7 linked regions of the Homo sapiens genome follow. The protein of the gene in region 1 purifies or fractionates together with the protein of each later gene. This does not show direct contact. Each region holds a gene or a part of one and is shown in the gene's direction. Other genes may lie near its edges.

What was found.
Region 2: the proteins of NEU2 (region 1) and CWF19L2 purify together in Homo sapiens (affinity purification with mass spectrometry; 3 studies listed by BioGRID and IntAct, with this or other methods). This does not show direct contact.
Region 3: the proteins of NEU2 (region 1) and MYB purify together in Homo sapiens (co-immunoprecipitation; one large-scale study listed by IntAct). This does not show direct contact.
Region 4: the proteins of NEU2 (region 1) and NOTCH3 purify together in Homo sapiens (affinity purification with mass spectrometry; 3 studies listed by BioGRID and IntAct, with this or other methods). This does not show direct contact.
Region 5: the proteins of NEU2 (region 1) and PEX5 purify together in Homo sapiens (affinity purification with mass spectrometry; 3 studies listed by BioGRID and IntAct, with this or other methods). This does not show direct contact.
Region 6: the proteins of NEU2 (region 1) and LONP2 purify together in Homo sapiens (affinity purification with mass spectrometry; one large-scale study listed by BioGRID and IntAct). This does not show direct contact.
Region 7: the proteins of NEU2 (region 1) and TIFAB purify together in Homo sapiens (tandem affinity purification; one large-scale study listed by IntAct). This does not show direct contact.

Annotation. Positions count from the first base shown.
Region 1 is NC_000002.12:233,031,469-233,035,471, forward strand, and holds NEU2 (sialidase-2), read left to right. Parts: upstream 1-1,203; coding exon 1,204-1,404; intron 1,405-2,647; coding exon 2,648-3,589; downstream 3,590-4,003. UniProt on the Homo sapiens protein: Exo-alpha-sialidase that catalyzes the hydrolytic cleavage of the terminal sialic acid (N-acetylneuraminic acid, Neu5Ac) of a glycan moiety in the catabolism of glycolipids, glycoproteins and oligosacharides.
Region 2 is NC_000011.10:107,440,826-107,444,325, reverse strand, and holds part of CWF19L2 (CWF19-like protein 2), read left to right. Parts: intron 1-1,276; coding exon 1,277-1,387; intron 1,388-2,703; coding exon 2,704-2,823; intron 2,824-3,500.
Region 3 is NC_000006.12:135,184,308-135,187,807, forward strand, and holds part of MYB (transcriptional activator Myb), read left to right. Parts: intron 1-1,595; coding exon 1,596-1,713; intron 1,714-3,500. UniProt on the Homo sapiens protein: Transcriptional activator; DNA-binding protein that specifically recognize the sequence 5'-YAAC[GT]G-3'. Plays an important role in the control of proliferation and differentiation of hematopoietic progenitor cells.
Region 4 is NC_000019.10:15,180,496-15,183,995, reverse strand, and holds part of NOTCH3 (neurogenic locus notch homolog protein 3 precursor), read left to right. Parts: intron 1-2,194; coding exon 2,195-2,420; intron 2,421-2,833; coding exon 2,834-3,035; intron 3,036-3,167; coding exon 3,168-3,315; intron 3,316-3,500. UniProt on the Homo sapiens protein: Functions as a receptor for membrane-bound ligands Jagged1, Jagged2 and Delta1 to regulate cell-fate determination.
Region 5 is NC_000012.12:7,203,186-7,206,685, forward strand, and holds part of PEX5 (peroxisomal biogenesis factor 5), read left to right. Parts: intron 1-246; coding exon 247-366; intron 367-3,500.
Region 6 is NC_000016.10:48,348,800-48,352,299, forward strand, and holds part of LONP2 (lon protease homolog 2, peroxisomal), read left to right. Parts: intron 1-2,781; coding exon 2,782-3,003; 3' UTR 3,004-3,500. UniProt on the Homo sapiens protein: ATP-dependent serine protease that mediates the selective degradation of misfolded and unassembled polypeptides in the peroxisomal matrix.
Region 7 is NC_000005.10:135,443,726-135,447,453, reverse strand, and holds the end of TIFAB (TRAF-interacting protein with FHA domain-containing protein B), read left to right. Parts: 3' UTR 1-345; coding exon of another isoform or gene 346-1,080; 3' UTR 1,081-3,228; downstream 3,229-3,728. Other genes in the region: DCANP1 (dendritic cell nuclear protein 1), read left to right, coding at 346-1,080. UniProt on the Homo sapiens protein: Inhibits TIFA-mediated TRAF6 activation possibly by inducing a conformational change in TIFA.

The DNA of each region.
Region 1 (4,003 bases):
TTTAAATAGATAACGCATGCATGTGGTAGAAAAATGAGAGCAGTACAAAAGGGTGCACAAAGGCAAACCTTGCCCCTCTTGCTGGCCTCTTGCCCACTTGCCCTCTGCAAAGGCTGTGTCTCAGACGGGGTGCCCAGGACGCCGGCTCTGACACGGAGACCCACGGCAGGCAAGAGCCTCTGGGGGAAAGGGAGGAGCAGCAGAGAAAGAGGCGGCTGTAATGCAGTCTCAGGGAAGGCCCAGCCGCCCGGAGGGAGCTCCGGAGCCGCACTGTTCCTGGTCAGGAGTTCAGGAAGAGGGTCTTCAGGCTCTGAGTGGACCAATCATCAAGCAGCCCTTCTTGGGTATGACCTGGGGCAGATTCTTCATCTGGGAACAACTGGCCCATCCTCCCCAGGCCAGGGCCCTGCAGCCAACACTCCCCAGAGCTGCGGGATGCATCCTCCTAAAGGGACCTAGGCAGCTTAGCCCGAAAATCACTGTCACCCACTGTCCCCAAGTTACCTCTGTCCCCTCCCTACCCTTTTTAGCTGAAGACTTATTTTTAATTGTTATTTTCTTAGACCTCTGGAGCACCCCACGCCCCCAGCCTGGGTTAGCTGTCAGGAGCCCCTGTCTCTTCCTTTCCCACTGCAGCGCCGCCCCCTCGCTGCCTCAGGGGGAGCCCACGCAGCAGCGGGGGCAGACGGGCCTCAGCCTCAGGCAGCCTGGGGAGCAGAGCCTTAGAAGCCATGCTTTTTCTTTTTCCTTTTCTTTGAAACAACTTTCTAGGGCTCTGGAGTTATAAAAAGCTCCCATGTGTCACTTTCTGGCATTTGGGCAGCTGCCGAATGCCACCCGGCCTGCACTGCTGTCCTCCCGAGGTTTGCCCCTGGATTGATGGGCTGGGTTTGGCAAAAGCAGCTGGAGGTTATCGAAAATCTGTTGTAAGGAGCATTGTTAACTTAGAATAAAAATCGAATCCAAAACACGCTTTTGCAATACCCCCTCCCGATATCCACCGAGGCAAAGGCAGAATTAAGAAGCAGGGTCTTGAGATGTAGGAAAGGAGAATGAACCCCACGCGGGAAGAGGACAGGCCGCCCTGACTTTGGTCCACTCAGCCAGGGGGTGAGCACCACCTGTCTTGGTGAATGACTCTGAGCCCATCTCAGGTGTGGCTGCAGGTGACACATCTTCTCTTCCTGTCCACCCCCCAGCCCCATGGCGTCCCTTCCTGTCCTGCAGAAGGAGAGCGTGTTCCAGTCGGGAGCCCATGCCTACAGAATCCCTGCCCTGCTCTACCTGCCTGGGCAGCAGTCCCTGCTGGCCTTCGCGGAACAGCGGGCAAGCAAGAAGGATGAGCACGCAGAGCTGATTGTCCTGCGCAGAGGAGACTACGACGCACCCACCCACCAGGTTCAGGTGAGGCAGGAGGTGTCTGCACTGGCTCCCCAGGGCTCTGCCACACCCTTTGCTGCTGTGATCAGGGGCCAGTCCTGGATCTCAAGAAATACAGGGACAACTTTATCCCTCAATGGCTGTACTCCGGAGGAGAGATAGAGCAGAGAAAGTGCCCCTAATGGTTCCCTGGACCTCTGGGTTCACTGTGAATTAGTCCAGCTGGCCTCCATCTGTTTTCATGAAAGATTGAATGAGTTGCCCAGCATCCGTGATGACCTCACGGAGGAATAGTTCAGTGTTGCATAATGGAGGGTTGTGTCCTTTGAGTAAAATTAACTTGGGGACTTGGGGTGGGGTGATGGCTTGTGTCCTAAAGTCCCATTTTATAGATTAAATAATTAATCCTGATGACAGCACCCAAGGCTGGCTGATCATATTTGAAGAGTTTAATATTATTATCATTCCTTTGTGGTCATTACTACACAGCTGTTCAAAGCATGGGATTTGAAGCAGATGGACCTGGGTTCAAGTCCTGGTTCCGCCACTGACCACAGATGTGGCCTAGGCAACTCCTCCTCCCTGTCGCGGTCTCTTGCTCACTGTAATAATGGAGCTACTAACACCTGTTCCCTGGGGATTGAGGCATTAGATGAGACCATGGATGTTAGACTTTTGGTGCTGTGTCTGTGCTTAGAATTGCCCAATGGGGGTAGCTGTTAATAAATGGGGACAGACAGCACATGTGACATAGACTTGGGGATTCTGGAAGCTCAATGTGACTCCTCCTTGGCTACATGAGTAGGATATGGAGTGTAGAAGGTGAGAGGTGACCGTCACATTCTGTCTTGTACTGGTCAGGTTATTGCACCTTCCGCCAGGGCTTTGCTATTCAAGGATGGTGAGCTGGACTGGGGTGGGAAGTGGAGGAACCAGGATGAAGTTGGGAATGGCTCATGCACGAGTCATCTTCATATCTTGTGGTCTGGCAGGTGGGTGTTCTGTAAATGCATATTGATGGCAATGGAAGGAACAGAATCACTCAGCCGAGTGTGGCTGCCTTGGAGGGGTGAGGTGGCACCCTGGGCCCCGCAGCTCTGGGGAAACGTTGCAAGGAGGATATGAGTGTTGGGTGAAGAGTTCTTCTCGATGACTTTTGACTCTAACCCGGGAGACACACCCGTGCCCACCCCTCCCACTCATGCAGCTCCTGGCACCATCCCCAGCTGTTTCAAGGCTGCCTTCTTCTTTCTCTCTCCCTACTCAGTGGCAAGCTCAGGAGGTGGTGGCCCAGGCCCGGCTGGATGGCCACCGGTCCATGAACCCATGCCCCTTGTATGACGCGCAGACGGGGACCCTCTTCCTCTTCTTCATTGCCATCCCTGGGCAAGTCACGGAGCAACAGCAGCTGCAGACCAGGGCCAATGTGACGCGGCTGTGCCAAGTCACCAGCACTGACCACGGGAGGACCTGGAGCTCCCCCAGAGACCTCACTGATGCGGCCATCGGCCCAGCCTACCGGGAGTGGTCCACCTTTGCAGTGGGCCCGGGGCATTGTTTGCAGCTTCACGACAGGGCCCGGAGCCTGGTGGTGCCCGCCTACGCCTACCGGAAACTTCACCCCATCCAAAGGCCGATCCCCTCTGCCTTCTGCTTCCTCAGCCATGACCATGGGCGCACGTGGGCGCGAGGGCACTTTGTGGCCCAGGACACCCTGGAGTGCCAGGTGGCCGAAGTCGAGACTGGGGAGCAGAGGGTGGTGACCCTCAACGCGAGAAGCCACCTCCGAGCCAGGGTCCAGGCCCAGAGCACCAATGACGGGCTTGATTTCCAGGAGTCTCAGCTGGTGAAGAAGCTGGTGGAGCCGCCGCCCCAGGGCTGCCAGGGGAGCGTCATCAGCTTCCCCAGCCCCCGCTCGGGGCCTGGCTCCCCAGCCCAGTGGCTGCTCTACACTCACCCCACACACTCCTGGCAGAGGGCCGACCTGGGTGCCTACCTCAACCCGCGACCTCCAGCCCCTGAGGCCTGGTCAGAGCCGGTACTGCTGGCCAAGGGCAGCTGTGCCTACTCAGACCTCCAGAGCATGGGCACCGGCCCTGATGGGTCCCCCTTGTTTGGGTGTCTGTACGAAGCCAATGATTACGAGGAGATTGTCTTTCTCATGTTCACCCTGAAGCAAGCCTTCCCAGCTGAGTACCTGCCTCAGTGAGCCTGTGGTGCCCACCTCAAGGGCCTGCCTTTCACCTGCACACCCAGCTCGGAGGCTCTGCGGCTGCCTCTCCTTCCCGTGGCCCCTGGACGTGGGGGCCACTCTGGGCTCCCTTCGGCGCCCGTGTGTGGAGAGAGGTGCACCTCTTGCTCTTTTCCTCCTGCGTGGTTCCAGTCTTCCCAAAAGGTTCTATTTTCAGCCCAGAAACCAAAAGTGTCTGGCTTCCCATAGCCCCTCCATAGGGAAGGCGTGGAGGGTCCTGCAGCGCAGCTGTCACCTTGTCTGCCTGTCCCCTACCCCCAGCTTTGTGTAGGTCTTGACAAATTTCTAGTTCAACTCCTTCCTTCTTGGGAACCATTCCTTATGTTCCTGGGGAAGAACTGAGATGGAAGACCATGGTGTAAATTAGCAGAG
Region 2 (3,500 bases), on another chromosome or scaffold:
TGGAAGCCACTGGTGAGTTTGGAGAAGTTTCAGTAGATTAATGGGGACAGTAGATGTATTGTAGAGTTTTGAGAAAATGTATGAAAGTGAGAGTGTGAAGGCGGTGCATGTAGACTACTCTTTCAAGAAGTTCATCTGAGAATGGAAGCCGGAAGATTAATTCCTGCTAGAGGAGGAATATACGGGGTCAAGGAAGGTCCCCCTTCCCTCCTTAAAAAAAAAAAAAAAAGGGTGGGAAATGCTTGAAATTGTTTCTAGGCCATTAGGGATCTTTGGTTAATGCCGTGAGAGGAGAAGATAATTGATGGAGCAAGGTCCTGGAGGAACAGAAAGAGTTATCAAAATCTTTAGAGCAAGATCTGCCTTAAATAGGAGGAGTTAACTGGAAATAAGGATAGGCACAGCCATAAATGTTTTGGGCGGTGGGTAGGAGGATAAGGTGGCCCTAGTTTTCTTGATGAGGTAAAAGAAGACATCATTTGCTGAGAATATGGGAATTGGTATAAAGCTTCAGGAGGGTGTTGAAGAAGATAATGTTATCTGCAGTTTTAGATCAAGGGAAATCTCAAAATGTGAAACTTAGGGGCAAACAGCAAATTCGTTTACCTGGGTGGTGTTTCCCCTGTTCTAGTGAAGCAGAGATGTGAGTAACTACTTGACGTTGGTAGTCACTGAAGCTCTGTGCTGAAGTGAGGTCTCTACTTGGCAGTTCCCATTTTTGTTTTTTTGCCTTCTCTTGGCTTGATAATAAATGGATGAGAAAATAAAAATAATTTGGTTGTGTTTGGTGGGCTTAACTCAAACTAGTGGGTTTATATGTTTTTTCTTTAAAAAAATTTTTTTTTTTGAGACGGAGTCTCTGTGGCCCAGGTTGGAGTGCAGTGGTGTGATCTTAGCTCACTGCAACCTCTGCCTCCTGGGTACAAGCGATTCTCCTGCCTTAGCCTCCTGAGCAGCTGGGATTACAGGCATGCGCCACCACGCTTGGCTAACTTTTTTGTATTTTTAGTAGAGATGGTGTTTCACCATGTTTGCCAGGCTGGTCTTGTACTCCTGACCTCAAGTAATATGCCTGCCTCAGCCTCCCAAAGTGCTGAGATTACAGGTGTGAGCCACCACACCCAGCTCTTTAAAATTTCATTGCCATTTTGTAAAGGGGAAATACAGTGTAAGAATTTTTTTCTACGATGTTGAATTTCTACCACTTAACAGCACAGAATTTTTATATCAAAGTATGCAAATTTGACAATTTCACTTATATGCTAAATGTTCTTAGAGCTCTGAAGATGAGTGGGTTGAGGCTGTTCCATCCCAGACTCCTGACAAGGAAAAAGCCTGGAAAGTGAAAGATGAAAAGTCAGGAAAAGATGACACCCAAATTATCAAGGTAAGCAAGCCACTTGATTTTCCTTCCTTGCTTTCTTCCTTCCTTCCTTCCTTCCTCCCTCCCTCCCTCCTTCCCTCTCTATCCCTCCCTCCCTCTCTGTCCCTCTCTCCCTCCCTCCCCCTCCCTCCCTCCCTCCCTCCCTCCCTTCCTTCCTTCCTTCCTTCCTTCCTTCCTTCCTTCCTTCCTTCCTTCCTTCCTTCCTTTCTTTCTTTCTCTTTCTCTCTCTCTCTCTCTTTCTCTCTTTCATTCATTTTAGAGACAGGGTCTCACTCTGTTGCCCAGGCTGGGCCGCAGTGGCACAATCAGAGCTCTCTGCACCCTCGACCTCCCAAGCTCGAGTAATCCTCCCACCTCGACCTCCCTGGTAGCTGGGACCACAGTTGTGTGCCCACCACGCCTGGCTAATTTTTTTATTTTGTGTAGAGTTGGGGTCTCCCTATGTTGCCTAGACTGGGTCTCAAACTCCTGAGCTTGAGCAATCCTTCCACCTCAGCCTCCCAAAGTGCTAGAATTAGAGACGTGAGCCACTGCACCTGGCCTATCACTTGGTTTTAAAGAAAAAAGTATCAACTTTTGAGAATAAATGAATATGAAAATGAAAGATGATTAAAATTTCTTCAGGAGAACAATTAGACTTTGAAAACAATATACTTTAGGAATAATTTTGGCAGTACTGCTGTTTGCTGAATGTTTAGAACCCCCTTCCCCTTCTACTGTGAGAAAGTGAGTGTTCCTCTCTATTCTCGTTCCTTAGAGGCTTTCATGCTTTTGATTGTTGATAAGAAGTGGCACTTTCCCCTTATGTCCCTAAAGCCTTATACTGTATCTCTGTCTGACCCTTCTATAGTGAGTGGAGTTCCATCACAGTTTTTTTTCCCTTCACCTCATGCCTTAATTTTCTTAACAATACTTAACAGTTGAATAGTTCAAAAATTTTGGGCTATAGTTCATCTGCCTCAGGAAGAATGTAATTTGTCCACTGTTAGCCACAGGTGAAGGAAGAAAGGTGAACAGGAACTAAGTTTGATTGCTTGTTGTGTGCCAGGCTTTGGGCTGGATGCTTTAGATCTGTTATCTTGTTTACTCTTTAAAACAATCCTGAAAGGTAGGGATTTTATACCATTTTATAGAGGAGAGACTAAAGTATAGAGAGATTTAGAAGCTTGCTTCAAGTTATATAGCCATGTAGGACTTGTTTCAGGTTTGATTGCCTCCAAAGTCCCTGCTCTTATTACCAAGTGTTTATTAAATTCTAATCAGTTCAGATTGAAATGATGAGTGGATGACTGTTGATTTTATGTCTTTTTTTTTAACAGAGGGATGAGTGGATGACTGTTGATTTTATGTCTGTTAAAACTGTGTCATCATCATCACTCAAAGCTGAAAAGGAAACTATGAGGAAAATAGAGCAAGAGAAAAACCAAGCGCTTGAACAGGTAAGAGAATATTTGAAATGCTTTAACTTTCTAATTTACCTTTAATAAACTTACAAGACATTTATATAAATGCAGTTTAACTTGTAAAATACCATTTTATTTTTTATAGTATTTAATACAATTAGTGAGAACAACTATGAAATACATCAGTTTAAGAAAAATAAATTTCCTATAGGAAGTGAGTTTAAAGGTTTACTAGATTTATAAATCTAGGGCATATATAAAGTTGAGTGAATATTGAGTTTAATATCATTAAATTGAAAGTGAACTCACTCAATTTTTGTTTCAGTGTACATACTGAATTAGACACCATGAAAATACTTCCATTTCAAGACATCTAGAAATTCTGGTGGATATAATGTAAAATAAGCATGCTTATTTTATACTTTATTGTTGTCACTTTGCTAGTAAGGAAGCAATAGGAAATCTGTAGAGACCAAAAAATGAGGCAAAAGCATGAATCCAGAGAAGTAAGGAAGTGCTGAAGCTGATGACTTTCCTAGGGGCATCACACAATCCTGGTAATCTGGAATTCCAATTTATACTGTACCAGGAGCATATGTTTCTTTTCCAGTACTCAGTATCTGTAATTGTCAAACTTTATATATTTTTTTATCAGCCTAATAAATGGGTGAGAAATGGTATTTCATTGTTTTTGTTCGCATTTATCTGATTGC
Region 3 (3,500 bases), on another chromosome or scaffold:
TCTGGGCTTTATAGCTTTTTTTTTTTTTTTTTTTTTTTGCTTTATCATATCGTGTTTTACATTTTTGTAGTTCTTGTTCAGAAGTTGTTTAGTGCCTCCTGTTGACAGTGGAAACAGAACTAGGCTATTGTTTCAAAACACAGACACTAAATGAAAGGAATTATTACAGATTATAAATATATATTTCCTGGGATTTTATTTGGTGGTGGTGGTATTTTAAATTTGGATTACATCATGTCGCCATTCAACCTGGACTATCAGATTGTTGCTTAAAATAATAGCTTTAAATTATGAGAACCCCCAATTCAGGATTTTTGGTAAGCACTTCAGCTTCACTTGTAGGGGGCTGGTAATATGCATACCAGTGAGTTAGTTTGGGAAGACAAAACCTGTAATGAATATAACTTTTCTTTTTAAAAACAATGATTTACATTATGATATGGCTTTATATCATTGTTTTTATTGGTCTTAGTTTAATGGGTTTCCCAACATTGCAATGACAAATTTTAGTGAAGTTTCTAAGATAGTATTTTTCCTATTTTAAGTTTTATAAGAAAAACTATAAAATAAACCGTGTCTGTAAAATTATTGTCATCTGATCAGTTGATTAGATTAACAAACATTATGATTATGATTAACAAACAGTAAGCATATAGTTACTTCTTCAAAAGTCATAAAATTTCCTAGGTTAGGTTAACTAAATAAAAGAAAAAGCTTTCGAAAATAGTAATGGGTTCTTTTAAATCCATGGCTTTTTTCTGGGGAAATCCCTTCTGGATTAGGTTACATTTTATAATATTTCAAACACCATTCCATCAGAGACAGAAAAAACAAGAGTAAGTAAGACTCTGACTAACAAGTGGCCTAATTATTCACTTAGTTACTCTAGAAACTAAGTATTGTAAACATGGGCACAAGTTGGATCAACCAGGCCTGGAGTTGTGAGCAATTTGGTATTAATTTTATTTACAAAACATTAAAGCTTGATCACTCAATGTTCTTATCTTTGCTTTGGTTTTAAAATCCTTTCCTCTTAGATTCTCCTAATCCTCTAGACTTTATGGGATCACTATAATTCTGTTTTGCGCTGTACTACTTCTTGATTTTTTTCTTCTTTTAATAAAACAAAAACCCCATTGGAATAGCATAGTTGAATTGTTTATTATGTTTGAGAAATATTATTTAAACGATGTGACAGATGCCAAAGATTTTGAGTGTGCACTTATATAAAGGACATGGGTTCTTGTTCCTTTTCTTATCCTTAACCTTAAGTTTTCAACTTAAACCTTCACTGGTTGGAAGGTGGCCAAATGTGTAACTTGTCCCTGGTCTAATAGTAACAGCAGGTTCAGACATGCAGGGGAATAGGAAGGTGCCAGGTCCTTGGCCGTGTCTGTGGATACCCATAACAGCAGAACCAGTTTACAATACTAGAGCAACAGAATGCAGCAAACAATCTTGTTGTGCAAGTTTTCAAAGTTTTGTCTTCATAACCTTTGAAAAGATTGTTGAGGAGTTTTGTGTAAGTTTTGTAATCCAGTAGTAGTCTAAATCCTCTTGTTTCAGCCCACGTCTACCCATTCTTATTTCTGCAGCATATATAGCAGTGACGAGGATGATGAGGACTTTGAGATGTGTGACCATGACTATGATGGGCTGCTTCCCAAGTCTGGAAAGCGTCACTTGGGGAAAACAAGGTGGACCCGGGAAGAGGTAACTAATCATTTTATCAAGACGCAGAAAATAGATAGAGTGTATAATTTATAAAAAACAAAATTTCAACTAAACTACAGGTGCTCAAGCTCATTAGCAGGCTCCTTGAGATCTTATCCTAGCCCGCATGTGCAGCGTGCCCTATGCCCCCCACTTCATTATATTATCCATTTCCACACTATTTGCAGTTCTTTGAATGTCCTCTTCTCATTTTAGGCTTCATCTGTGTTTCCTTTTGCCTGTTGAGTTCTCATCCTTTTGTCCCACCTCTTCTTCCTACTTTTACATTACCCATGAAGGCATCACCTCTTCTGTGAAGCCATCCCTGGCTTCGCCGGACAGGATTGGATGCATCCTCCTGTGATCCCATGCATGGGTGCATGTTCTACTTTATTGTTGCTGGGACATATATACCTCCTCCAGCTGACTGCAAGTCTGTTGAGGGCAGGGCTCTTGTCTATTCATCTTTGTGTTTCCTGAATTCACAAATGCTTGGACCCAAAATAGGATATTAATAAATGTTCTCTCAATAAGTGAATGACTTGCTACTCCCAAAAACAAAACAAACAAAAGAATAAAACAAAACACTCAGAGAACTCATCTTTTTACAGTGTATTGATTTAATATCCTTGATATACTTAACAGAGCCATCTATATGAAGGTATGTTTTAAAATCATCCGATAATGGATGGAGACACATCTGCTTCTCCTGTTTCTTTTTCGGCTGGCTTATCAAAAGTTTGATTTTGTAGGAATGGAAAAATATTTTAGAAGCAAAATTATTAATATGTGGAGAAAAGTTTCTCTAATGTTCTTAAAATTTTTGCAACTAATTTTAGATGATTCATGTTACAATAAATGGTATTGGCTCTTCTTCAGTTTCACTGTTCTCTGCTTCATTTAAACCAGAGCTCCTTTTAACAGGCAGGTAGGATTCCCAGAGAGGCCCATAGGAAATTCATATTTTACCTATTAAGATTATCCACTTGGATAATCCTTATGATACGGAAATTCTGTTGTCAACATTGGTTTCCTAATTCTTGTGTCTGTATTGTACCAGGGACCTCCACTGTGTGTGAATGTTACCTTTGCAGAAACATAAGAAGGAATGCATTTATATACTTATGAACTGGTAGGATTGTGAACAGCATATAAACTAAAAGAACTGATTAGCTGGAAATGTTTAATGTCTTTTATGTTCTAACACATCTGGCCTATCTAAATCTAACTGATTTTCTTATATAGCTTTCAAATTTAATTTTAAAAATGGTCTTTATTTCTTTATAAAAAGTTAAACTAACTGGAAATATTCTATTTCTTGCTCAAGATCCTATTTATTACCATAGGTAAATGTGTACTGAATCTAGCACTGGAATGCATTTTTTCCTAACAGAGTAAAGCAGTTATTTATAATAAACACTCAATATATGCCAGGCATTATGATAAATGTTTTGCAAAATTGCCTCATGTAATCCCCAAATAACCCTGTTAATATCAGCCTCATGTTAATAAATTGCCCCATGTAATCCCCAAATAACCCTGTTAATTTCCATTTTATAGATGGCAATACTAAGGCCCAGAAAGGTAAAATGGTATACCCGCTTTACACAATTAATAGTTGAGTCAAGATGCCAACTCTGGTCTGATTCTAAATAAATCTATACTCCCAAGTCCGTATATTACATTAATATCTCCTGTATTCGGATACTTTAGAGAGACTTTTTATTCTAGATTCGTTCCCTCATTCACTTTAACTTGAACAGAGTTATATAGTAAATAACTGATAT
Region 4 (3,500 bases), on another chromosome or scaffold:
TCATCGCTCACTGCAACCTCTGCCTTCTGGGCTCAAGCACCTCAGCCTCCCCAGTGGCTGCGACTATAGGCGCACACCACAGCGCCCAGCTAATATTTTGTGTTTTTTGTAGAGACGGAGTTTCGCCATGTTGCCCACGGTGGTCTCCAATTCCTGGGCTCAAGCAATCTACCTGTCTCCACCTCCCAAAGTGCTGGGATTACAGGCGTGAGCAACCACACCCGACCTAAGTGCACTGTCTTTGAGAGCAATCGAGTTAATATCATGTGCAAAGTATGAGATAAAAGGCCCCCCAGAGGCCGGGCGAGGTGGCTCACACCTGTAATCTCAGCACTTTGGGAGGCCAAGGTGGGCGGATCACCTGAGGTCAGGAGTTTGAGACCAGCCTGGCCAACATGGAGAAACCCCATCTCTACTAAAAATACAAAATTAGCAGGGCATGGTGGCGCATGCCTGTAATCCCAGCTACTTGGGAGGCTGAGGCAGGAGAATCACTTGAACCTTGGAGGTGGAGATTACGGTGAGCTGAGATTGTGTCATTGTACTGCAGCCTGGGCAACAAGGCATAACTCCGTCTCAAAAACGAACAAACAAACAAACAAACAAACAAAAAGGGGTGCTGCCAAACAGATAAATAACACAAGCCACATATGCAATTTTAAATTTTCTAGTAGCCACATTAAAAAATAAACAGAAATGGGAGATATTAAATTTAATATTTTATATTTATTTATTTATTATGTATTCAGAGTGAGGCTCTGTCGCCCAGGCTGGAGTGCAGTGGTGCGATCTTGGCTCAGTGCAGTCTCGAACTCCTGGGCTGAGGCATTCCTCCTGTCTTAACCTCCTGAGTAGCTAGGATTACAGGCACTCACTACATGCCTAGCTAATATTTTTATTTTAATTCTGTAGAGATGGGGTCTCACTGCGTTGTCTAGGCTGGTCTCAAACTCCTGGCCTCAAGCCATCCTCCTGCCTTGGACTCTCAGACTGCTGCCACTGTGCCTGACCAAATTTAATATATTTAAATTTAATTTATTGAATGTATATAATCGGCTGGGCGCAGTGGCTCACACCGGTAATCCCAGCACTTTGGGAGGCTGAGGCAGGTGGATCACCTGAGGTCAGAAGTTTGAGACCAGCCTGACCAACATGGAGAAGCCCCGTCTCTACTAAAAACACAAAATTAGCTGGGCGTGGTGGCACATGCCTGTAATCTCAGCTACTCAGGAGGCTGAGGTAGGAGAATCACTTGAACCCGGGAGGCGGAGGTTGTGGTGAGCTGAGATCGTGCCATTGCACTCCAGCCTGGGCAACAAGAGCGAAACCCCATCTCAAAAAAAATAAAAATAAAAATAAAAGTAAATAAATAAATAAATAAATAAATGTATATAATCTATTTAACCCAATATATTAACATATCATTTCAACATGTAACCAGTATAAAATTGTTAATGAGATATTTTACATTGTTTCCTTTTTTTTTTTTGAGACAAGTTCTCACTCTGTCGCCCAGACTGGAGTGCAGTGGTGCGATCATGACTCACTGCAGCCTTGACCTCCCAGGCTCAAGTGATCCTCCCGTCTCAGCCTCCCCACTAGCTGGGACTACAGGTGTGCACCATCATGCCCAGCTAATTTTTGTATTTTTTATAGAAATGGGGTCTTGCCATGTTGCCCAGGTTGGTCTCGAACTCCTGAGCTCAAGTGATCTGCCCACCTCGGCCTCCCAAAGTGCTGGGATTACAAGTGTGTGCCACCACGCCCAGCCTATTTTTTTTTTCATACCAAGTCTTCAAAATCTGAAACCCAGTATGTATTTTACATTTATAGCACATCTCCATTTAGTCACAATTTCAAGGACTCAGTAGCCACATGTGGCTAATGGCCACTGTCCTTGTCCTGTTCCAAGCACAGGAATTAGATCAGGCACAATTAGCAGCGTTTGCTTGGCAGCTTAAAGGGACCTTTTGGTTTTCCCAACATCCTGCCCTTGCCACATAGGTGAGGTTTCCAGATAAAGGAGGGGACGAGGCCACAGAAGGGGATGGATTTAGATTCCTCTGACCAAATGCACCCCATCCCAGTTGAACCTGGTTTCCTCCTGAATTCTTCTCAATCCAAGGCATATCCCAGTCAGACTGGGCTAATGGGGGCAAGGTAGGTGACCAGACCGCCTTCCTCCTGTCCGCAGACCCATGCCTGAACGGTGGCTCGTGCCAAGACGGCGTGGGCTCCTTTTCCTGCTCCTGCCTCCCTGGTTTCGCCGGCCCACGATGCGCCCGCGATGTGGATGAGTGCCTGAGCAACCCCTGCGGCCCGGGCACCTGTACCGACCACGTGGCCTCCTTCACCTGCACCTGCCCGCCAGGCTACGGAGGCTTCCACTGCGAACAGGACCTGCCCGACTGCAGCCCCAGGTGGGCGGGGCCTCTGCTTGGAGAGCAGGGACTCTGGCTTGGGATGGGGCCTGGGACCTGGGACGAAGTGGGGACAGCAACGACTTGGGGGAGTCCTCAGCTTGGTACCCACTGCGGACTCTGATGACTGATGGGGCAGGGCCAGGGAAGGAGCAGGGCGTCTGTTTGGAGCTCACCTTGGAGTCTCTGGTGCCTGAGAGGGCATGGCTTCCAGGTGGCTCTCACCTTAGGGCTGAAGTCCCTGGTGAATTGGAGCTAAGGGACCTGATTGGCTTCTGCTGGGGCTGCAGCTTCTTGCCGAGATAAGGGTCAGGGAGTGGGACGTCCCCAGCGCTAACAGCGGGACTCAGGAAGGAGGGCAGGGCCTGTGAGGGGGCGGAGCCTGATCCTCCCTCCCACTCCTTCCGCTCCAGCTCCTGCTTCAATGGCGGGACCTGTGTGGACGGCGTGAACTCGTTCAGCTGCCTGTGCCGTCCCGGCTACACAGGAGCCCACTGCCAACATGAGGCAGACCCCTGCCTCTCGCGGCCCTGCCTACACGGGGGCGTCTGCAGCGCCGCCCACCCTGGCTTCCGCTGCACCTGCCTCGAGAGCTTCACGGGCCCGCAGTGCCAGGTGGGTGGAGTTACTGGGGACCTGGGGGAGGAGCCTGCCTGGGATCCTAGGAGGGAGAAGCCAAGTCGGGGCACAGTTTCTCCCAGACTACCCCCCACCCCACAGTACTGACTCTGAGTGCTTCCCCTCCAGACGCTGGTGGATTGGTGCAGCCGCCAGCCTTGTCAAAACGGGGGTCGCTGCGTCCAGACTGGGGCCTATTGCCTTTGTCCCCCTGGATGGAGCGGACGCCTCTGTGACATCCGAAGCTTGCCCTGCAGGGAGGCCGCAGCCCAGATCGGTGAGTGGGAGCATGTGGGCGGGCGTGTGGGGCCTTGGGAAGGGGCTCATGCACGTACCTCCTGCTAGTGTGAGCCGAATGGGGGTGCCACAGAGCCTATGGGGCATGATGGGGTGTGTGGCTGAGTGGTGTGGGTGTGTGAGCATGTGACAACTGGCCGGGATGGTGTGTGTCTGTCACTGTGA
Region 5 (3,500 bases), on another chromosome or scaffold:
CTGCACTGCACTGCACTGCACTGCACTGCACTGCACTACATTACATTTCTGGCCATCACCCCAGACTACTAAATCAGTATCTGGGGATAGCATCTGGCCATTTGCATTTTAAAAAACTTATTCAGATGATTCTTAAACATATTGAAATTCAAGAACTGCTGCCTTAGAGAATCCCAGCAGAGCTGAGTGTGGGGTGGGGTGGTCATGATGGATCTCCTTTTTCTATCTGCTTTCCCTTCCTTACAGTCTGATGTCGATTTCTGGGACAAGTTGCAGGCAGAGTTGGAGGAGATGGCAAAACGGGATGCTGAGGCCCACCCCTGGCTTTCTGACTATGATGACCTTACGTCAGCTACCTATGATAAGGTGAGGTAAAAACTCTTAGTTTTTCAGGTTCCAGAACTTCCTTCTTTTTAACGTCTTTCCTTTAATCCTGAATTTGAAGGGTGCTTTTAAGTATTTTCTTGAGTCCCTTTCCACGAAAAGAAGTCTGAATAATTCCCTTGCCCTTCCTCTTCAGTGATTGAGTATAAACTTTATTCTTGGGATATAGATGTTAATGAGACTATCTTTGTCAATAACGACAGTCCAGTACATAACACCTGTGAAGGAGGTTTGCACATGCTTGCTGCATTAAAAGCACAGAGGAAGTAGCTCTGCTTGGAGGTCAGATTGGGAGCTTTTTGAGAAGACTGCTGACTCCTTTGGTGGGGAGTGTTAGTGGACAGACTATCCCTTTGCCTCCACATCTTAATATCTGTTTACTTTTTAAACTCACATATTCATTTTAAGTTCTTATCTTTTATAGGTAGTAGCCACTTGCCCTAATTTAGGGTTTTCAAAGAATTTATATTAGATAACTTAAATATTAGGGAAATTTCTTAGTAGTATGAAAGATGATTGCATTTTGCCTATAGCATGTGCTGTTGACTTAGAAGCATATGTTACTTCTGGGGTCTTACTGAAAAACAAATCTACCTGTGGGTTGTAGGATATTTGGGGATGTGTTTAATAACTGAGCTCCTGAGTTGAAACATGAAGAGGGGAAAGAATCACTTGGTTTTGAAAAAAGGCAAAACAGGAACTGGGGATGTGAGTAGTGATGTCTTTTTCTCAGTTCAGATCTGGTTGGGAAAGTATTGTGGGGCTGGAACCAGGGCCTGAGATGCAAACCAGGGTGCTGGAGATGGATCTTGATGTAATAAGGGAGCTATGCAAAGATGGGAAGATGCAGTTCAGAAAAAGGCTAGAGTTTGAGAGCCAGTGAAGAACAGTATTAGGAAAAATATGATTTTGCTTATTATTCCAGTCTGATCTGGATTTTTCTAACTATCCTGTGTGATATAAGGGAAAAGACAGCTGGGACCTTGCCATGTATTTCACTAGACTATGAGTTCATTGTATATAATTTTGATAAGGAAGAACTGAAGGAAATATAGATAACACTTTTGTTATTATTTTGTATTAACAATTTGATAAGTCACATAGGCCCCATCAACTTATAAATGGAAAGTTGTACATTTATGTAAAAATGTCCATGCTTTTCATACATATAGACATAATACTAGTTTTGTATGAGCAGCATTTTCTTTTATCATTTATTACTCTCGTATTTATGACATGCTGGCCAGAATACATTTTTTTTTTTCAGACACATAGAACAATGTGACAAATTAGAAAGCAAATTTTTTTTTAGAAAAAAAATCACATTTGATCAGGTTCCAAGAATAGAAATGTGGAAAGGATAGTCTTTTCGATAAATGGTATTGGAGAAACTGCATATCCATGTGCAAAAGAGTGAAACTGAACCGTTACCTCACACTATGTACAAAACTTAATCCAAAATGGCTTAAAGACCCAAATGCAGTACCCAAAACCGTAAAATGCCTAGAAGAAAACATAGGGAGAAAGTTTCTTGACATTAGTCTTTGCAATGATTTTTGGGATATGAGCTTTTGGTGTCATATCCAGAATACATTTTTTAATTAAAAACTTTAAAAGTATGTTTGTAGATTCTTGAGCCCTACTTGATATCATTGATACTTTGGGATATTGCAAAATTAGGACTAGAAATACTTGCATTAATGTTCCTCAAAAAGTGATGTAGTAAGCAATTAGACAGTATCTGGCTTTAAGCTAATATTGAATTCCATGTCAATAGAACTTTTTAAAAACAAAGGACTTGACTCTTGATTGTTACATAAATTCATGGATCTCTTTGAATGCACTGTTTGTTTATTGATAGCCCTTATATTTTCAGAGACAATTTACATTGCAGCTCAGGCAGATATTAATATACTATTATGATAAAAGAGAAGTATGTGATGGGACAAACTCTTTGTAGTGATCATTTCTGCAGTTTGATCCTATGAGATTTTGGAGCAGACCAGACCGTGTATCAGATAAAATTAATGACTTGGGTTTGGCTTTTCAGGATGTAACAGTGAAGCCAAGCTTATCCTGTGTTCTGTGGGTTGTTGAGGGATCCCCCAGAGTACTCTTTTTCCATCATCTATGCAAATATTCTAATTTTGGAAAATTCCTCTTTGATCAGCAATTGATGAGACTTCAAGGAGGGTAGATAATATGGATGAGAGGAAACTTAGAGAATCCTGTGGTTGCAAGATGGTGGCATTGAGTTGTTGTATTATCTAATGAAGACACCTGAAGAGCATTCGCATCACTTCTGGCTGTCATATACAGGCCATCATATCTTAAGGAAGTATCTAGAGCAGTGAGGATAATAGCTATTTACAGATAGTATCTTAAGCTTTTTGGTAAGGCGTTGGTGAAGATTCCCATTTGATGTTCTCAATGGCTCTGAGAGGCAGGAATTACTTTTATTAGGAAACTGCATTATAGATGACAGTAATCTCTGTTTTCTGTAGAGTGGCTTAAAACACGTATTAATGATGAACAATAGTTGAGGTTGAATGCAGAAGGATTTATTTTATTGAACTGTAATAGTCTAGGGCAAGGGCCAGCACACTGGCTTGTGGGATAAATCTTTATGTTTTTAGTGATCCACTAGCTGAGGATGGTTTTAACATTTTTAAATGGTTGGAGAAAATCAAAAGAGTAATACTTTGTGACAAGTGAAAATTATATAAAATTCAAATTTTAGTGTCCATAAATAAAATGTTATTGGAAGACAGCCGTGCTCATTTGTTTACTTATGTCTGGCTGCTTTCGCACTACAACAGTAGAGGTGAGTAGTTGCAGCAGATCCACGAAGCCTGAAATATTTATTATCTGGCCCTTCGCAGAAAAAGTTTGCTGATCACTGGACTAGCGTCATTTTCTGCCTTCTTAGTTTTTATATTATGCAGAGATGTCCAAAAACACACTTGTTTTCAATATAAATATACTTTCTATACATTTATCTCAAATCTACTATAATATGTCTTTCTTCTTAAACCCCCCATTGTAATTATTTAATTTTCATTTGTGACAAATAATTTGCATCTGATCATGACTTAGAATTTTGCTGGTAAGATTTA
Region 6 (3,500 bases), on another chromosome or scaffold:
TCCCATTCTAAGATTTGCTAAGGGAAAAAAATATTAGTGTGGTCATCAGAAATATTGGCAGTTACATGAAAATTTGAGGCCTTGTTCTACTTGACAAATTGTTAAAGATATAGCACATGTGCAAAATGGGATAGTAGTTGTTTTTAAGCTTTAAGCCCATTTCTTAAATTTGAAGTTTCTTTGAGACCTCCTGTCCCCCTGCAGAAAACTTTGCTAGTATAGAATGGAAACTCTAATAAAGATTAACCATATCTAATGACTACATTTTGAAAAGGTTCTATACATGTGGGGTCTTGAGGCTCCAGATCCTAAACTGCTTATAAAAATAGTGTGATAAAATGTACAGAACTTGAGAGTATTTAAAGTTGTTAGTTGAGTATTAGTCTACAACAGACTAGACTACAATTTTAGTCCACAACAAGATTTTGGCAGGTTCATAGCAAGATGAGGAAAAAAAAAAAGAAATAGTCTTTTTTTCTTTTTTCTATCGAGATGGAGTCCGGCTCTCTTACCCAGGTTGGAGTACAGTGGCACAATCTTGGCTCACTGCAACCTCTGCCTCCCAAGTTGAAGTGATTCTCCTGCCTCAGTCTCTCAACTAGCTGGGATTACAAGCATGCGCCACCACGCCCGGATAATTTTTTCTATTTTTAGAACCTCCATAGAACAAATGGGTTTTCTACTTGGTCCCCTCTCAGAGCAAATCGTAGCCCAAGTAAAGGCTTCTGCAGCCTCAGGAGAGACAGCCACAGCGGCCTGGGGTACACCTTCAGCTCCAGACCATTACAAGAGGCAGGATGGAAAGCAGCAGCACTTGAAAGAAAGGCCTGTGAAAGCTGGAGAAAACCTCCTTTGAGAACAGAGGACAAGACGGGGCTTTGGGATTTGAAAGTGGTCAAAGAATTATTCAGGAAAAAACTATAGTGAAAAACAATTTGTTGTTAGAACTCCAACATCTAAAAGGAGTTCTAACAAACAGGAAAATGGAATGGAACAAATTATCCAAGAAATAACTGAACATTTCCTAGAAGTTAAGGCATCTTGAGATCGAAAGGACCATTACTAACCAGGAAAAACATTTCATCCCCTTGACTTTTCAGATTACTGAGGATAAAGCGGCCTCAGCACTGACACTGGATGTGCAGTACCTTCAAAACTATGAGGGAAAATGGGCCAGGCGTGGCAGCTGACGTCTGTAATCCCAGCACTTTGGGAGGCTAAACAGGAGGATAGCTCAAGTCCAGGAGTTCAAGACCAGCCTGGGAAATATATCTCTACAAAAATTGTTTTAAAAATAGTAAGGAGGCTGGGTGTGGTGGCTCACGCCTGTAACTCCAACACTTTGGGAGGCCAAGGTGGGCGTATCACTTGAGGTTAGGAGTTTGAGACCAGCCTGGCCAACATGGTGAAACCCTGTCTCTACTAAAAATACAAAAAAATTATCCGGATGTGGTGGCGCATGCCTGTAATCCCAGCTACTCAGGAGGCTGAGGCAGGAGAATCGCTTGAACCTGGGAGGCAGAAAGTTGCAGTGAGCCAAGATTGTGCCACTGCACTCTAGCTTGGGTGACAGAGTAAGACTGTCTCAAAAAAAAAAAAAATAGTAATGAAAGCTGTGAGGGAAAATGTTTTACATCTAGTCTTGTATACATGGCCTTAGTATCAATCAAGTGTGAAAGTAAAATATTTTCAAACATGCAAGGAATCAGTTCATCTTACACTCTTTTGAAGAAGGTACTTTGAAGGAGTACTTCAGCAGCATGAACAAAACCTTGAAAGAAGATGCCAGTGGGGCGGGAAGGCCTGGAGCAGCCAGCCAGTCTTAATTGGAGCAGATGCAACACATTACCCCAAAGCAAGAATACTCCATACTCTTCAAGTTCCTGTGGGCCAGGAATTCAGGAGAGGCTGAGCTGGGTTCTTGTGGCCCAGGGTCTCTGGCCTTACAGTCTAGGTTCCAGCCAGGCTGCAGTCACATGAAGGCTGACAGGCTGGAGAAACTGCTTCCATGGTGGTTGACTCATGTGACTGGCAAATTGGTCCCATCTAGTGGCAGGAGGCCCCAGTTCCTCACCTGATGGACTTGCCCATAGGCTGCTTGAGTGACCTCAGACATTATGACTGGCCACCTCCAGGGCAGGTGATCAAGAGAGATTCAGGCAGCAGCTCTCGTTTTTTGTGACTCAGCCGTGGAGATCATACAGCATCACTCCCACCACACTCTGTTTCTTACCGAGTCACAAAGCCTGGCCCACATTCAAGCAGGGGGACCATTGTAGACATGTTTGAAAGCCACCATAGGAGCCTAGTTTAGGGATACATTTTCTTCATTAACCAGCATGGAGGTTCTGGCTTTAAACCTGTAGAGAGGGAAGTAACCCCAGCACACAGCTAAGCTCTGCAGGAGCGGCGCTCATGGTCAGAATCACGTGCTGCTTTTTCAGATCAACCTAAAGACTAGACGGTTGTGATTACACCTGAATGCCAATTTACTTTGACAGCATTTATAAAAACAATCATTGACAGAAGAGGAACTCATACCTATCAACAATTTAGAATCCCCCTCATCAGAGTCTTTAATATAACACCAATTGAAACATTAAAAAAAGGTTACTACTTATCCTTTTTCCTGGCTTTCCTAGCTCATGCTATAACAAAACGGAAGATGATTTGGATGTTTTAAAATAGTAGTGGTTAAATTCAGTGAAAGAAAGCTGGGTCAGGGTTTCTTTCAGCTTGAGGGTGATCATTAACCCTAAAAACTTTTTTCTCTCCTTACAGGTGGGTGGAATTAAAGACAAAGTGCTGGCGGCACACAGAGCGGGACTGAAGCAAGTCATTATTCCTCGGAGAAATGAAAAAGACCTTGAGGGAATCCCAGGCAACGTACGACAGGATTTAAGTTTTGTCACAGCAAGCTGCCTGGATGAGGTTCTTAATGCAGCTTTTGATGGTGGCTTTACTGTCAAGACCAGACCTGGTCTGTTAAATAGCAAACTGTAGGTCCAAATCTCAATTTTTTAGAATTTTAAGTTATGAAGTGCTCAAAGGTACTGACACAGTTGATTTTATTCACACCATTAGGGGTATGCAAGATGTCCCTGTTTTATAAACATAATCACAACAGTAATAAACCTCAAGTAGTGGCTAGTGTTTAGTATAGAAATATAAGATGTTGATTTAGTAAACTGATAAAAATCGAATTCTTGTCTTTTTAGTGGGATCCTTACTGTCCCTGGAAAGATATAGCATAGTGGTTCTCAGCACAGTCTCCAGAACAGAAGCATCTGTAGTACCTGGTAACTTGTTAGAAATGTACATTCTCAGGCTCCACAGCAGGCCGCCTGAATCAAATCCTGGGAGGTGGGGACAGAAATCTGTGTTTTAAGAAGCCTTCCAGGTAATTCTGCTGCACACTCAAGTTCAGGAACCACCGGTATAGACCATTACCTTAGTGGATTTACCTGTAGAGTTTATTGGATCCTGAAACCAATCAATTA
Region 7 (3,728 bases), on another chromosome or scaffold:
CCAGCACACACTTAATAAGGGTTAGCTACTATCATGAGACCTGAGAGAGGAGGGCTCACCATCCACACGGAGCTAAGGAAGACTCACACCCCAGTAAGCTGGCTCCAGAACCCAAGGGCTTACCTGTGCTCTGTGATTCCCCAACTAGGGATTTAGTTGTAGCCACGGACCTGGTAGGCAACAGGGAGGGGATTTTAATCTGCTCCTTGCATCAGAAGGTCCAATAGGCAGGGTTAGTATAATGGGAGATGCCCTGGTAGGGCTGGCAAGGAGAAGAAGCCACATGTATTTTGGTCTGATGAAAAGCAGCAGTGATCTGTCACTGACCAAAATGGTCCCCCAACTATGCATTACGGAGCAGCAACCCACATACAGAACTCGAGAAGCCACGGCCTGGAGACTGTACCTGGACACCAAAGACTGGAGAGAGGAGCTGGTGGGGAAACCCCAGAGTTCCCAGGGTGCCACTCCCCAGCTCCACCAGAGAACTTTGGGAATGAGCTGCTGCCCCTGAGTGCCCCTCTCCAGGGCCTCAGTGAGGGTCTCTACCCTCCAGGGAGGAACAAAACCTTGCCAGCTGGGGTCCTGCGAGAGGGGGCAGTTCAATTCCTCCACAGGGGACTCTGCAACTCCAATCTTTCGAGTGAAGCATCTGCGAGGCCCTCAGGGACCCAGGATGAACTGCATAGCAGCAGAAGGAAGACAGGCCAGACCAGGCGGGAGGGAGCCCGGAAACATCTGGTTTGTAGTTTCAGACTCTACCCGTTCACAGTTCACACAGTCTCACCGGGAAACTCACACCTTGCCCTGTACCAAGTTTTTAAGGCAGTTAAGCTCTGCCCATCCGAGACTTCATTTTTCTTGAGTAGAAAATCACTGAAATCATCAGATCCATGGCACCCACCTTCACTTTCTCCTAACAGCTGGAACCGTCAGGCTGGCTTCAGGGCCTGGTCTTCGCACTTGATATCACTATCCCTCACCTGCTCAGACAGCCAGAGCAGGCGGGTGAGTTCCTCCCAACAACCTCCACTGCATTCTCTCAGCTCCCACCGCAGGGCAGCCCACGTGCCTGAGTGAACATGTGTGCGTGTGCACACACGCAAGTATGCACAGACATACACTAAACACGAACATACAGTGCACATGAACGCTGCTCCCAGCTAGGGCCCTCTGGTCAGACTGCTGCCTGGGTTAGAATTCTTGTCCCCACCCCCACTTACTATAGTTCTGTGATCCTGGACAAGTAACTGAATCTCTCCGTGCCACAGTTTCTTCTTGTAGAAAACGGGAAAGTTCACAGTACTTACCTCCTTAGAGTCATTGTGAAGGTCAGTTTGAGGCATCACAAATTTAAGGCACCCAGACATAAGGGTCAACAGGGTTAGCTATCACTGTCCAGTTTGGTGGGAGGAACTGAATGCATGTAGGCACATGGACCCAGTCTACACTCAGGCACAAAAGGAGCTACATTAGTTACATTCAGGCATACCCCAGAGCACTACAATTCTCTGAGACATTGTCTGGAAATCTAGAAATCATCTCCTTGCCCTTTAAGGTATTTTAACCCTCGCATTCCTCTGCTTTTCCAAGAATGTGAATCTTGCCAAGCTGTCCGTGAGAGACACGGGCTCCCCTCGAGGGAGACTTGCAAATGCTCCATAAACAGCCACAGTGTGGGGCTCTGCCATGAGGAAGTCACAGCAGACACGCTAGACAGCATAGTCCTGGATGCAACCTGGAGGAAGGGAGGCCCATGGTGGAGCACTCACTCCGTGCCTGTCTGCCCGGTGAGACCTCAAGTTCCTTGCAGACAAAGGCCATGGGTTGTTGGCTCTTGTGTTCCCGGTGGCCTTTCCAGAGCTGAACAGAGGACAGATGCACAGACGGGGGGGCTCTGGTGGTCAAGGCAGCAGTCCCCTTGGATACTAAAGTCTGAGCCAGGCCCCTCAGGCCCGGCATGGGCAGTGCGAGGCCCATAGTGGTGGGAAGCCAGTTGGCCAGCTGGGGTGAGAAGGCCGCGAAGCCATGGGCAGACAGGAAGTGGAGGTGAATGTCTCTGCCTCCTGTAGGCCTCAGCAGGGACAGCACAGACCCTCTGGCTGGGGCAGCGCAGACCCTCTAGCTGGGGCAGAACAAGGCTGGTGCTTCCTTCTAGTCCTTGAGACTTTGTAGCTCTAACTCAAGCAGAACCCTGGGGTTTTGGGATTCTGTGTGGTGACTGCTGAGGAAGGTTTATGGATTTGACAGGGTGCATGTCACAGAGAGACAGTTCTCAGTCAGCACTTCCTGTCCCCTGCAGAGGCTCATAGGGGACAGCCCCTGCCAAGGAGACCCTGGAGGGGCTCTGAGGATAGCAATCAGAGGTTGGGCTGGCTGGACTGAGCCCAGGCCTGTTGCCCACCAAGTCTCCATAGGTTCTAGTCTGACCCCTCTCTCCACCCCTGGGCTATGCAGGCCAGCCCGTGCAGACCACCCCCGACGCGTCCACTTGCAACACCCGCCTCACTGTGCCAACACTCCATCCACACAGGAAAGGACTGAGAACGTGATGCTTAACCCAAAGGAGTGAGTTTCATAGGATGGGTGGCTTTAACAGTTTCACAGCAGGACACTGAGGGAATATTTCCCTATCCCTTCAAATGGACGGTCACTACAGAAACGTGTAGAGCAAGACTTTGTCAAGGGGCTGTTTCCAGGTCTCCCGGTGTCTAAATAGCAGAGCTGGAATGGGAACTGAGAACCGATTCTTTCCACAACCGCCCACTGAGCAGCAAGGCTGCAGCCAGCAAAGAGGTGCGGAGGCAAGCAAGCTCCATGTGGTGGGGACAGCGCATTGCGACCTCCACCACCCCTGCAGTGGGCTGCCAGCTGAGCCACCTGTCTTCCACTGTATCTACTGTACGAACTTCTCCAGCTCTGCTCTGTTTTCTCTTCCTCAGCATCCACCCCGTGACACGTAGTGGTGGCTGATGTCGCCACAGTACCATGAGGTTAACAGGTCCTCCCTCCAGCTTCCCTCATGGTGGCAGCCTAACCTGCATTGCAGCCGTTCACCGGACACCGCACCAGACCCTCAAAACCCATCCAAGACTGTGGGAGGAGTAAACAACCCAGCCCAGTTAAGAGGAGATGCCGAATTTAATGAACCCTATTTGAATTGCAGGGCTGTGATTCCTCTTACCTTTAACGTGAACTCACAGGCGGATTAAAGTGAAATAAAACCTACCATTTGAGTTACATTCTCAGCTGATTGGAAACATGCATTGCCTCCCCATGACCGGGCCGTGAGAAGGGAAGTTATTATCTTTCTTTAGAGTTTGTAAACTCTTTATGGCTGAGGCAGCTTTAATCCTGCTGGGGAAAAAAAAGGATCCGGGAATCAATTGCTCCTATTTACCTTTGTTTTCCAATCACATGCTCCAGTGGGAATAAAACATCCTAAGTGAGGGGATGTGGGGAGCCAGGTGATCCCTGACAGAAGAGTTTGATTATTTTCTTCTCTAGGCATGTGAATTGAAGGAACTTTAGAGTTCTATTTGGCAAGGGGTCTCATTTCACAAAAATGTGCACCCCAGTAAGGATATCAGCACTCCTGGGCCATTACTGGTTCCTCTGCCTTTTCTTTCCAGAGGAAATGCCCTCCATTCCCCAACCATGCCCACTTCTTTAAGGGGTGCTGGCAGCAAAGGGCCCAGCTCCAGGCATTTGGCCAGGAAGGAGTCCGA